Homo sapiens: one gene and its partner. The protein of the gene in region 1 purifies or fractionates together with the protein of each later gene. This does not show direct contact. Each region holds a gene or a part of one and is shown on either strand. Other genes may lie near its edges.

Region 1 (8,467 bases):
AATTCCATTATATTAATTTTCTGCTTCTGTTGAGATGACCATATGATTTTTTACCTTTATATTGTTAATATGTGTCTTTGTTCATATGTGTTGCTATAAAGGAATACCTGAGATTATGTAATTTATAAAGAAAGTTTATTTGGTTCATTGTTCTTCAGGCTGTACAAGAAGTAGGGGGCCAGTATCTGCTTCTGGTGAGGGCTTCAGGCTGCTTCCATTCAAGATGGACGGGGAAAGGGAGCCAGCATGTGCAGTGATCACATGGCAAGATAGGAGGCAAGAGGTGGGGGAGGTGCTAGGCTCTTTTTGTCAACCAGCTCTCACAGGAACTAATAGAGCAAGAACTCACTAATTACCACAAGGACAGTATAAAGTCATCCATGAGGGATCTGTCTGCATCACCCAAACATCTCCCATTAGGCCCTGTCTCCAACATTGGAGATCAAACTTTAACATAAGGTTTGGAGGGTCAAGTATGCAAACTATATAGCAATATGGCAAATTAATTATTGGATTTTCATGTATTAAACCAACCTTGCATTCCTGGGATAAACCCCATTTGGTCATAGCATTCTTTTTATGTATGCTGGTTTGATTTGCTAATATTTTGTTAAAGAGTTTTGCACATATGTTCACTAAGGATATTTGTAGCTCTTATTTTGTAATACCATTTTCTAATTTTGATATCAGGATAATGCTGACCTTTTAAAATTAATTGGTAGATATGCTTTCATTTTATATTTTCAGAAAGTATCTAAATTGACATTATCTTAATTACTTGCTTGGTAGAATGCATAAGTGAAGCTATTTGTGTCTGAAGTGTATTTTGTGGGAAATATTGTCATTAGGTATTCAATGTCTTTAAGAGATAAAGAGCTTTAACATTTTCTCTTTGTTCTTGTCACCATCTTAATAAATATCATTCAAGGTATTTGCTTATTTCATTTAAGTCATTAAATTTATTAGTATAAAGTTGTTCATAATTTTCAAATTATCATTTTTATACCTGTAGAATCTGAATGATGTCCCTTCTTTCATTTCAGATATTAGTAATTTGTCCTCTTTATCTACTTAACTGTTGATATCTCTGTGCTCAGTTTATCAGTCTGGCAAAAATATAAATTAAAAATGGACAAAAAATTTGAAGAGAATTCAAAAATGGTATAGAAATGGTAATTAAACATATGAAAATATGCTCATACCATTAATAATCAGGGAAATTCAATTAAAATCAAGTGAGATAGCCCTGCACACTTATTAGAATGATGAGAGTAAACAGACAAATTTAAAAAAAAAACAAAATACCAAGTGCTGGAAAGGATGTGACTAAATCTGAACTCATACATTGTTGGTAGAAATGCAGAACGGCATTCATTTTGGAAAACAGTTTGGTGGTTTTGTACAGTCATTCATATATTTACCATACAACTAAGTAAACCTATTCTTAGATAACTGAACAGGAGTAAAGAATACTAACTAACACAAAAATCTGTATGTAAATATTTTTAGTAGCTTTATTCATAGTTGCCAAAAGCTAGAAGCAACTCAAATGTCTTTCAACTGGTGAATGAATAAACTATGGTACATTCATACCATGGAATAGTACTTAACAATAAAAAAAAAAACAGGACCGAAAAACAAAATGGATTGTCTTCAAATGCATTGTGCTAAATGAAAGAAACCAGATTCAAAAGGCTACAGCGCCTATCATTACATTCAGATGACGTTCTGGAAAAGGCAAAATTATAGGAACAGAAAACAGATCAGTATTTACCAGAGCCTGGGGTTGTGGGGATAAGGCGACTCCAAAGGATACAAAGGAATTTTAGAGGATGACAGAACTGCTCTATGATTGTGCAGGTAATTATATGACTTAAGAGTTTTTCAAAACTTAGAGAACTGTAGGCCAAGAAGAATGCATGTTATTGTTTTTAAATTATAGTGCAATTTAAATAAAGCATCATGCTGTATTTAATCTGCCACAATTTTTCACTCAGTATCATGTTTCTAATATTCATCCATGTCATATGTAAAGTTCTAGTTCATCAACTTTCTCTGCTGCATATTATTGTATTGTGTGAATATTTCAAATGTATTCATTCATTCTCCTGCAAAAGTATTTTGTTATTGTCTTTCTGTTTTTCATTTTCTACTAAGCTCAATACTTCTCCAATGATTTTGGAACAATTTTATGAAGTATAGAACTAGGAGTAGAATTGCTGAGATTTAGAGTATGTGCCTATTCAACTTTACAAAATAATCTGACATTTTATTCCCTTGTTTGGCCCCGCCCACATCCTGCTGATTGGTGTTACAGAGTGCTGATTGGTGCATTTACAATCCTTTAGCTAGACACAGGGCGTTGATTGGTGCATTTTTACAGAGTGCTGATTGGTGCGTTTACAATCCTTTAGCTAGACACAGAGCACTAATTGGTGCGTTTGTACAGAGTGCTGATTGGTGCATTTACAATCCTTTAGCTAGACCCAGAGTGCTGATTGGTGCATTTACAACCCTCTAGCTAGACAGAAAAGTTCTCCAAGTCCCCACCCGACCCAGAAGTCCAGCTGGGTTCACCTCTCACTAATGATGCTGTTTGCTTGTCTGTTTAAAATGCTGACAGCTAGATCTCCTCATTGTAAAGTAACATTTCTTTTCCTTTAGAATTATAAAGAAATATGCGGGGTAAAACTTTGCCTCACTTTAAATTATTTTAAAGTAAATTAATAGGGCTTATTTGAATCCATTGTTTATTGGTGCTTGCAAAATAGTAACTATCATTATTTTTCTCCATTCCTACCAGGTATTTTCTGTTAAGAAGAGCTTTTCCTTGTTAAAAGGAGGTGAAATCTGGTTTATTTCCAAAAGCATTAGATTAAATCCTTCTTTCTTTTAATTACCAGCTTTCAGAGTAAAGATCTGATGCAGTAGTTGCCTCCAGTGGAAGTGGGGTTCTTTTTTCCCTGTTTTTCTATGTTGTTGAGTATCATTATGGATTTCTTTTTTTTATTTATTTAATGTCTTAAATCAATCCCAGTAATTCCATTTGATTCCCAAATTGCCTCAAATTCACCAGTGTCCTTTTTACATAATCTTATCTTCTTAGTCTCTGACTATGTCCTTACTGTCAAGCATAAAATGTTCCAGGCTCATCTTGTACTTTTCCTGCCACAGACAGACAGTTTATCTAGTTCAGTCCCAGTTTCAGCTATCTATTTATTGCTCTGGTTTCCAGCTCTCTCTTTCTTTCTGGCCTCTGGGCATTTTCTTTAGGTTTTTTTGTTGTTGTTGTTGCTATTGTTTTTTCAAGCTCAGGTTTGCATTTTTTCAACACCAAAATTTTTATTCAGTGACAACTATGGGCTGAATGCAAAAGTGAACGAAATAAGTTCTCTGAGCTCAAGGAGCTAACTTACATTCCAAAAATCCTTGTTATATTATCTATGCATTTTAATGTATATTTTGGTCTTCCAATTTTACGTATTGTGAAGATTTTAAAGTAATCTAGCCTGCTATATTACCATTAAAGGTGTTATAAATGATAATTTGTAAAATTTTACATTAGTTTGCAGAATTAATATTTAGAAAAACAAAAAATAGGAAGTCCAATGAGGAAGGAATTGCAGTACTCTAGGTATAAAGTGATTAGACTATTGGTAGAAGTAAGAATGTAGAAAAAAACTGGACTACCTGAATATCTTGAAGGAAGAAAAGATAGAATTTTGTAACACTTTAGTAAGAGGGCATGATACAGAGGAAGGAGTCAAAATTAGCTGCAAATTTTCTTCCCTTTCAGAATGAAAGAATGACTATAACATCTACAGAAATAGTGTAGCTGGTGTGAATGGGTGGGAAGATAAAAATATATTTTGTTGGGTAAGGACTGTATTTCTATATTTAATATACCATGCAGTGCCTTAACATGGTGTTTTACACATAACGGATAATCAATAATTGCATCAATGTACTACATTTGAAAAAAGCAGCAGAGCAACTACGTGCACGTCTCAAAGCAACTGGGAAAACAGGACTAGAAGACAGTGAATAAGTGACAAGATTATAGGTGAGCAGGGGGAGTAGAGGTGCTTTCTTTGCATCCCTAGAGCCTGGTTTGGTGTTTGGCACACAGCCAGCCCTCAATTCACATTTACCAAATAAATGAACCTATATCATTTGCATAGACATAATAGCTGAACCCATGGGAATAGATCTTAAACCAGAGAACATGCAGTTAAAAAAGAACCCTTCTTTCCTATGCCCTGCACTGCTAACAATTGCCTGCCTCAGAAGAAGCAATTCTAAACATACCTTGAGTTCAGGATAATTGGTGGAGTTGGAATTTCAGGAACTGTTTTTTGTTGCTGTTGTTTGTTTGTTTGTTTGTTTGTTTTGGTTGGGGGAGGTGTATTCTAGATTTAAGACATCAAAGTGACAGACTTGCCGCCTTCAAAGTTATATCCATTTTGTACAACGGTCAGATTATCTCCATAAGTTAGAGCTTGTAAGTGCAATCAGGGCCATTCAGGCCCCCAAATAGAAACCTCCCTTATTAGCTGGACTGCTGTATAGCATTCGCTAACTAAAAGGTTATCGGATTCCCCTCTCTCCTTTCAAGCTGACCTGACAGCCCTTTCTATTCCCATCCTCAAGGGGGCGGTGACTACGGAGCCACTCCTTATACACGGACGCTCAAAACTGCACCAAAACTTCCCTGCTCGGCTCCCCGGTGCGTCAAACTCTGAGGCCACCGCCTCAGACTGAGCCTGCGCATACAAGAGGTGCAGAGCAAGCGCATGCGTCGTGACGGCCCGGCTTAGGCGACTCTGGGCGGGTCTGGGCCGCTCCAGTGTTTTGGGGCACAGAAGCTGTGGGAGGAGCTGGAGGCTTCACCGTGGTAACCACAGCGCCGCTGCTGCCCCGCCTTGCAGGCCTCAGGACTGTCATCGCCTCTGGGTGTGAGGGTACTTTGGCCACCGTCCCCGGAAATAACCGCGCCTGCCTCTCAAGATACCCCATCCTCTCCACGCCGCTGCCGCTGCCGCCATGCAAGGGGAGGACGCCAGATACCTCAAAAGGTGACGACTCCCCAAGGCTCTGTCCTACCCTCCTTGCCAGGGCCCTGAAGATGTTCTTGGGTTGGCTGTGAGATGTCACTGGGCAACGCTAGTTTAGCAGACGGGATGGGAAGCAGGGAGAGAAGTCACCGAAAGGAGAGGGAAAAGGTGAAGTGGAGAAAAAAGGAGAGCTCTGGGGGGGTTTCAAAGTCCTTTGACCTGACTCGGCGGAGCCCTGACAGCATTGAAAGATGGTTTCTTCGCTACATCACCTTATTCCAGGGGGAGAGGGAGGTAGGGCAAGGTAAACCGCGTCTTTTGTTTTTTTTTTCGCCTCTTCCCAGACTCTCCATTTTCCCATAATAGATAAATCCCATGAGAGCCTGGGAATAAAGTCTGGTGCATCCGCCCTCAGGCCTCAGTTTGGGGTTCATTGCCATGGGCTTTTGAAATGATGAAGGGGAAAGAAGTGGTGGATTCTACTTTTTGGAAGGCTGAATTGAGATGTTGATTTCCAGTCTCTTTCTGCTTTCCGCATCCATGTCATCCATTTGACTCCCATGTATACAACATAATTTTTGTAGGACATTTAGTAATTATTAAGAGGTTTGTTCAGAAGTTTGATGACAATAAAATAGGCCATAATTTCTTTTAAATATAGTATCAGTTACTCAAAAAAATTGTAGTCTGTTGGGATTATTTGGGTGCTGGCAAATACTCAGATCATTCCTGATTTGGAAAAAAAAAAAGATACCTCCCACTGAACCAAGAGTAAGCAGTGATCCAATAGAAAAAAATTTTAATTCAGTACTGATTCAGTAAATACCCTGGAAAAGTCGCATGTATTCCTTTGGGCACGGTTTCCTCATCTGAAAATGGGACAGGCGTTACCTTCTGAGAGATACAAGGACGAAAGATGAAATACTTTTAAAAAATGAAACATGAATGTAAGGTGGTGGTATTATTTCAAGTCATAATACACTTGCAGTGAATATTTTTATTCTGGCTTGGCTGAGCTCTCATCATCACAGAAAGATCTTCCAAGTGTTAGTAGACTCATAGAAGGGATTCAAACAATTGTATAATAAATAAATCAACTCTATTGTCCTGGCAAGACAGGCATATATTGACTGTCTTTTTTATTTTATGTAAATATATCTGAAACTGGCAAATAGCCAGACTTTGTCAGTAAAAATTTTTAAATGAATATATAAGCCTACATCAGTGTTTATTTCCTCACTGAATTTTACTTAACGTTGGTTTTTAAAATACCTTGGTTAAAAATTTTGTGACAGAAGAAAATAAATTGCCTTTTAACTTTAAATTCAAAATTGTTCTGGAACAAAGAGCCGCTGTTATACCATTAGCTGATTTTCATGTAATATATTTGTGTCAGAGGTAGTTTTTCTTAACATTATCGTACCAGTATGGACACTGAGGCATACTGTGACTTATAATTCTCAACCTATTGTTTGCTTTTAAATACATACTATCTAGAGTTCCAAAATTAAAACCAAGCCAGTCAATGTAATGTTTGAAGTAAAATGAGATTAGAGTCTGAAAAGGTTGAAAAATACATTTCTCAATTTCATCTAATTTTTACTATAAATAATAAAAAGTTTGAATTGTCTGTTTTCAGACTAGAAGCATACAGGAGACATGTATTTATACAGGCCTGATGGAAAACATTTGTGATGTCTGATAGAACCTTCAATTTTAATTATTGTTTTTTGACCATGATTACATATATTCTTTAACAATATTTTTACTTTTATATTTTGTTTTTAACAAGACAGCAGATAGCAGTATATTTTCAGTCCCTTCCTACCTGAGTAATTCCATATTTTGGTTTTACAAAAATAATTTTTTTTGAATCTCTATGTGTTTTGGTGTTTGATTCTTACATGCCCTTCCTTTATCTGGAACTTGCCCTGTTCTTTGCCCCGCTAATTCCTCATCTTTCCTGTTTTGACATAAATACCACTTTTTCCAGAAAGCTTTCCTGAACTTCCCTTTCCCACCTCACAATCCAGGTCAGGTATACCTGTTAGGGTCTCATGATACTTAATACCTTGTTTTTCCCTAAACTTACTACTTTATATTTCCTTCTGGTTTATAAAGTTCATAAAGGTAGGTGCTATGTGTCTATCTTACTTCCCATTGTATTCCCAGCACTCAGCAAGGTGCCTGAAACATAGATTATTAAGTAAAGTCAGAATAAGACTAGAAAGAAATATGAGCCAAATCATATGGGACTTAAGCGCTTTAGTAAAGAGTTGAGACTTTATTTTGAGTGCATTGGTGAACTATTGAAGGATATTAAAAGTGAACAACATTTGTTCATTCATTTAATAGTTGAGATTCTACTGTGTAAAAGTCATTAAGCCAAGTGATAAAACATATTTGGTAAATGAAACATAAATATATTCCCTGCCTTCATGGCATTTACACTCTAGCAAGTAATACAGACTTTAAAATATACTGATATTTATTGTATTTATGAGTGCTATATGAAAAAAGTGTGTGGCTTTTGTGTCAAGCATTTCTCACATGGTATATCAAGGTCCATCTGTGTGGTAGCATGTATCAGTACTTCATTCCTTTATATAGCTGCATAATATTTGCTGTGGTTTGGATATAGTTCGTTTCCACCAAAGCTCATGTTAAAACTTGGTCCCCCATTGTGGCAGTGTTGGGAGCTGGAGCCTGGGAGGTGTTTCAGTTTTGGGGGTGGATCCCTCATGAATGGCTTGGTGCTGTTCTTGCTGGAGTGAGTGAATTCTTGCTCTAGTGAGACTGGATTAGCTCTCTTGGGAATGGATTAGTTCCCTCTAGAGTTGGTTGTTATAAAGCCAGGAAGACCCTTGGGTATTCTCTTTTCTCACTTCCCCTTTGATCTTGTCCACTGTGTTATAATGAAGCACAAAAGCCCTCACTGGAAGCCAGAGTCATGCCCTTGAACTTCCCAGCCTGCGGAACTGTAAGCTAAATAAACCCCTTTTCCTTATAAATTACCTAGTCTCAGGTATTGTGTTATAGCAACATAAAATTGACTAATTCAGTATTCCATTTTATGGATATACCACATTTTGTTTGTTTATTGCTCATCTGGTGGTGGACATTTGGGTTGTTTCTACCTATTGGCTATTGGGAATAAAGCTGCTGTGAACATTACTGTACAAGTTTTTGTTTGAACACTTGTTTTGTATCTTTTGGTGTATACCTAGGCCTGGAATTGCCAGACCATATGGTAATTCTATGTTTAATTCATTGAGGAACCACTAAAGTGTTTTCCCTAGTGACTGCACCATTTTACATTCCCACCAGCAATGTATAAGAATTCAGTTTTCCGTATCCTCACTAACACCTGTTATTTTCTGTTCTGTAATTATTACTATACTAGTGGATATCAA
Region 2 (5,012 bases), on another chromosome or scaffold:
AAAATAGGTCCTGAGAAGAGAGGATAAGGGAAGCTAGTCTTTCTTTTCTTTTCGAGACAGTTTCACTCTTGTTGGCTAGGCTGGAGTGCAATGCCACAATCTCAGCTCACCTCAACTTCTGCCTCCTGTGTTCAAGCGATTCTCCTGCCTCAGCCTCCCGAGTAGCTGGGACTACAGGTGTGCACCACCATGCCTGGCTAATTTTTGTATTTTTAGTAAAGACAGAGTTTCACCATGTTGGCCAGGCTGGTCTCGAACTCCTGACCTCAGGGATCCACCTGCCTCAACCTCCCAAAGTGCTGGGATTACAGGCGTGAGCCACCGCACTCGGCCTAGACTTTCAAGTTATTGTAATTCAGCACCCATCAGGCCCAGGCACATCTGTGTGGTTTACATGCATTCTTTCCTCCTTTAACCCCTTTGGTGGATCAATGAGGGCATAGGGAGTATGACAGTGACAGCTAATCTGGACACCACTGAGGCAGTTCTGAAATCTGCCAGTTGCTCAGAATTAACTGGTTGGGGACGACCAGCCTAGAACACAAACAGCTGCTGCCATAGTCCCGGCACAGACTTCCGACTAGTGCCTGGGACCTGCTCCCCAGCCCTATTGGGCAAACAGATCTCCATTTATTAAGCAACCAGTTCTTTTCCAAAGTGCTGATAACTGCAGCTGGAATCCATATGCTCTTTTTATTTTTATTTTTTGGGATGGAGTCTTGCTCTGTCGCCCAGGCTAGAGTGCAGTGGCACAATCTCAGCTCACTACAAGCTCTGCCTCCAGGGTTCAAATGATTCTCCTGCCTCAGCCTCCAGAGTAGCTGAGATTACAGGTGTGTGCCACCACACCAGGCTAATTTTTGTATATGTAGTAGAGATGGGGTTTCACCATGTTGGCCAGGGTGGTCTCAAACTCCTGACCTCAGGTGATCTGCCTGCCTGGGCCTCCCAAAGTGCTGGGATTACAGGTGTGAGCCACCACGTCTGGCTGATATACTCTTGAGCCCCTACTGGAAAAACATGGAAGAGAGAGAAAGGAGAAAATGAAAAAGGGAGGGAGTTAAAGTAGGAAGAAACAAAGGGAAGAGAAGTAAGGCAGTCAACTCCGTGACGATACTCATTCCTTTATTGTCAACTGCATTGATTGGAACAGGGCTGGGGCCTGCAAGCTGCTGGCAGCACCCAGCTGCAGGTGCATTTCAGCTCAACAGAAAGGCCTCCATCCGAAGCCAAGGGGACAGAGGGGAATGTTTTATATATATATTTATATATTACATATGTCCCGTATAGTCATATGTGTAGAGTGACAAGAATGGGCCACTGCATTGTTAATTGTTGTCCTAAATAAAGACCATAGCAACACACGAGAATTTGGTCCTAATCAAGGCCCTTACTTTGTCAATCAAATATTTGATACACCAAAAGGAAAAGGAGAGAAAGAGAGACAGAGAGACTGAGATCCAGCCACTCCTGGTGGCCCTGTTCCCAGCAGATCTTACACTGAGTGTAGAGTGTCCCCTGTGGAGGTAAACACGCACACAAACACGCACACACATACACACATACACAAAACCGCAGGCAGGAGCTCCTCCTCCGACCATACCTCGGGCCCAGCCCTCGGACTGGGGGGGCTGATTTGGGTATATTGTGCTATAAGACTGTGAGGGAGGTGTGACAAGACAATGCAAAGGCGATGTGTCCAAGTGATGAATGAGGTGATACGTGCTGCTTTGTCCACAAACGAGAAAGAGGTCAGTGGGAGAGGCTGCTCAACGCAGCCCTGGAGGTCCCCCTGCGCTCAGGCCACCTGGTGAATTTCTACACACAACTCCTGTCCCAGCCACAGTCGAACCTCTGATCTGAATCCTGAGTCTCAAATAATCTCTTGGGCTCTGATGAAAATTGTGATTTCCTGGAAGGACAGGAGCAAATGGCAAGTGGGTGGCTCAACCCTCTAGTCCAGTAATGAAGCAGAAATGACAGTGTCGCTGAGTTAAATCAGACCCAAGCTTGATCCTCAGAGCAGAACTTGAATGATGTAAGAAGGGTTCATTTCCTGAAGGAAAGAGAATAACCCCCGCCACCACCTCCCACACCCCCCATTTCAGGCAGATCTGTCAGTCTCATGGTTTCACCCCAACGACAGCACTCTTCATATTCTAGGAACTGGAGACTCACACTATTAGGGCACTTTGAAATCCTAATTCACTCGCTTGCTTTCGTTATGACCTCTTCACCCGTCCTCCAAAATATACACTTAAAAAGCCAGTCAATGAACATTAACCATTTTTTTTTGTAGAAATTTACTTATCACTTGAGATACCTAGAGACATTTTGGGCCATCACAAAGGAAGGTAAGGAGTATCCCCCTAGGAACCAATTTGCGTAACTAGTGAATAAAGGATCTATTTTCAACAAAATAATACCTTAAAGATGCAATTCAGAAACAGGGGTAACAGGCAAAGCTGGAAAAGATTGTGCCTGGGCTTCTGTTTCCTGTGACAGATGAAGGGAAAAAGCAATAGATGTTAATATCTTCGTTTAGCGAGGGGTAGAATGACATTGACTCCTCCCACTGTGAACGGGGTCTAGGCAGCTGCAGGGAGAAATGATCGAAGCAGGCAGGAGCAGCCTCTTGAAAATGGGGAGTTGCCTTGAGAGCCTGTCGACCAAAATGACTCCTCGGAGGGGACAGAAACAAAGGAATCCAGTGGAGGGACTTCCGTTGATGACTGTTCAAGTTGTCTCAATTGCTGTTCCATTTCCTGCAGGTTCCAAGGCGATGGTAATTGCTTGGTCCACAGTTCCCATCCAAGGTGGGCAGAAAGCAGAGTTTGGGAAGCTGTGAGTTCTTGTCAAAGCTGAAGGGCATGAGCTATGTTGGTGAGGTTATTAATGTCCTTGAAAAGGAGCCCAAGAGGCTGAATGAGGTTGTCTGAGGCTCAGAAAGTGGAGAGTGGGGCTGTGTCCACGGGGAGCAGATGCCCAACACTGTCAGGATGTCTCTTGTCCTCAGGGAACACCAAGCAGTCTCCCAGTCCCAGAAAGTGCTCAGGGGCTGCTCGCCATCAGTGTGGGAGAAGATGGAGGTTATGGAGTGCGGTGGGTAGAAAAGGGACTGTCTTCTCAGGCACTGGCTACCTTCCCTTCTGGAGGCAGCTGACAGGGGGACAAGCCTGAGATCTGACTGGGGGAGCTCTCAAGTCAGAAGAAAAAGAGGCTACGCAGTGACCACGGTAGGCCCAGACGGCTCAGGCGAGGGCATCTCCCCAACACGAACAGAGCTCCGCGAATAAATAACATGAATTAAATAAAGGAGGCGAAGAAGAGCAGGCAGAGGCACCATCTGCCAGATTCTCACCCCTGCACACACGCACACGCACATGCACGCACACGCACACGCACCAAGCGGCAGATGAGATGAGCCAGGGTTGGCTGCCCCATCCCAGGAGTCTATTGGATGGGCAGCCTGACGTGATGGTTGTCACTCATGGTCCGCCACTGTTGCAGGGCGCAGAGAAGCAGAGGCCAGGGAGGCATGTGTGGTGGAAGGTGGAGGCCGCTGAGGACTCTGGCACCTGCAGGGGAGATGACGCAGGCGAAAGGGGAGGTTAGGGAAATACAGGAAACAGGAAAGTGGGTCCTCTCCTTTGCCCCATCCTGTTGCTGCAGGAATCCTTCTGACATCCCCAGTCACCCCTTGCCCTTCCTGCCCTTCGGGTACCAGCAAAACCCTCTTTAGCATCACCCAGCGCCTGCAGTTCCCCTGCCTCCTGGGTCCAGTGCTGCCTGGGACCATGGAGGTACTGACCAGGATCTGGACTTTCGGACTTTAGACGTGGAAGGTCTTTCCAGAAAGCTGTCCAATCGCATGAGCCTCTCCATGTGTAGCGCACGAGGGTCTTGTTCTTGGTCGTGAGAGAATTCCATCTCAAAGACAGCTGGAGGGGACACATCCAACTCCAGAAACATTATGTTTTCAGCCTGTGGTGGGAATATCATGCCAGGCTTGAACAGTGCCCAGTCACTGTGCCTTCTAGGGACTCAGCCAGTCTTGGGTGTAGCAGGGCTGATGAGGTGGTTAGGGGAAGCAGAGGCTGTGAGCATCCCCTCCCATAGGCTCTTTTTTTTTTTTCTTCTGAGATGGAGTCTCACTCTGTTGCCCAGGCTGGAGTGCAGTGGTGCAATCTCGGCTCACTGCAACCTCCACCTCCCAGGTTCAAGCAATTCTCCTGCCTCAGCCTCCCAAGTAGCTGGGACTATAGGCACCCATCACCACGCCTGGCTAATTTTTGTATTTTTAGTAGAGACAGGGGTTCACCATGTTAACCAGGCTGGTCTCGAACTCCTGACCTCAGGTGATCCACCTGCCTCGGCCTCCCACAGTGCTGGGATTACAGGTGTGAGACACCTCGCCCGGCCTCCCTCCCGTAGGCTCTTTCTCCCCTCTCCGCTTCTTACCCTGTACCTGGGGTGGGACCCCATTGCCATGGCAACCCGAGCATACTGGCTGATAGGCCTCTTGTAGCCCACTGCAGATGTTGGCCGCTTCTTCATCTGGCTGCTACTGCTGTAGGAAAGAGGCTATATTAGAAAGGATTTCTGTGGAACACAAACAGCAAATGACATCATGAGGACCTAAATATCATTCAGGTAGCTAGGAGGCCCTGCAGACTGCAAGTTCTGGAATTTTCTTCTCCTTGCTCTAATACAGCTTGACAACTGAAGCTAGTGCAGTTGTCCCCCTCATCCGTGGTTTCGCTTTCCACAGTCTCAGTTACTGTGGTCTGAAAATAGGCAAGTACAGTACAATCAGATGTTTCGAGAGACAGACACACCTGCATCACTTCTATTAGAGTATATTGTGTTTTTGTTGTTGTTTTGAGATGGAGTCTCACTCTGTCACCCACGCTGCAGTGCAGTGGCACAATCTCAGCTCGCTGCAGCCTCCACCTCCCAGGTTCAAGCAATTCTCCTGCGTCAGCCTCCCGAGTAGCTGGGATTACAGGCAT

What was found. The genes of interacting proteins can lie anywhere in the genome.
Region 2: the proteins of KIFAP3 (region 1) and KIF3C purify together in Homo sapiens (co-immunoprecipitation; 4 studies listed by BioGRID and IntAct, with this or other methods). This does not show direct contact.

What each region holds. Positions count from the first base shown.
Region 1 is NC_000001.11:170,071,044-170,079,510, reverse strand, and holds the start of KIFAP3 (kinesin-associated protein 3), read left to right. Parts: upstream 1-4,815; 5' UTR 4,816-5,043; coding exon 5,044-5,075; intron 5,076-8,467. UniProt on the Homo sapiens protein: Involved in tethering the chromosomes to the spindle pole and in chromosome movement. Binds to the tail domain of the KIF3A/KIF3B heterodimer to form a heterotrimeric KIF3 complex and may regulate the membrane binding of this complex.
Region 2 is NC_000002.12:25,925,494-25,930,505, forward strand, and holds the end of KIF3C (kinesin-like protein KIF3C), read right to left. Parts: intron 4,571-5,012; coding exon 4,462-4,570; intron 3,985-4,461; coding exon 3,812-3,984; intron 3,579-3,811; coding exon 3,485-3,578; 3' UTR 1,105-3,484; downstream 1-1,104.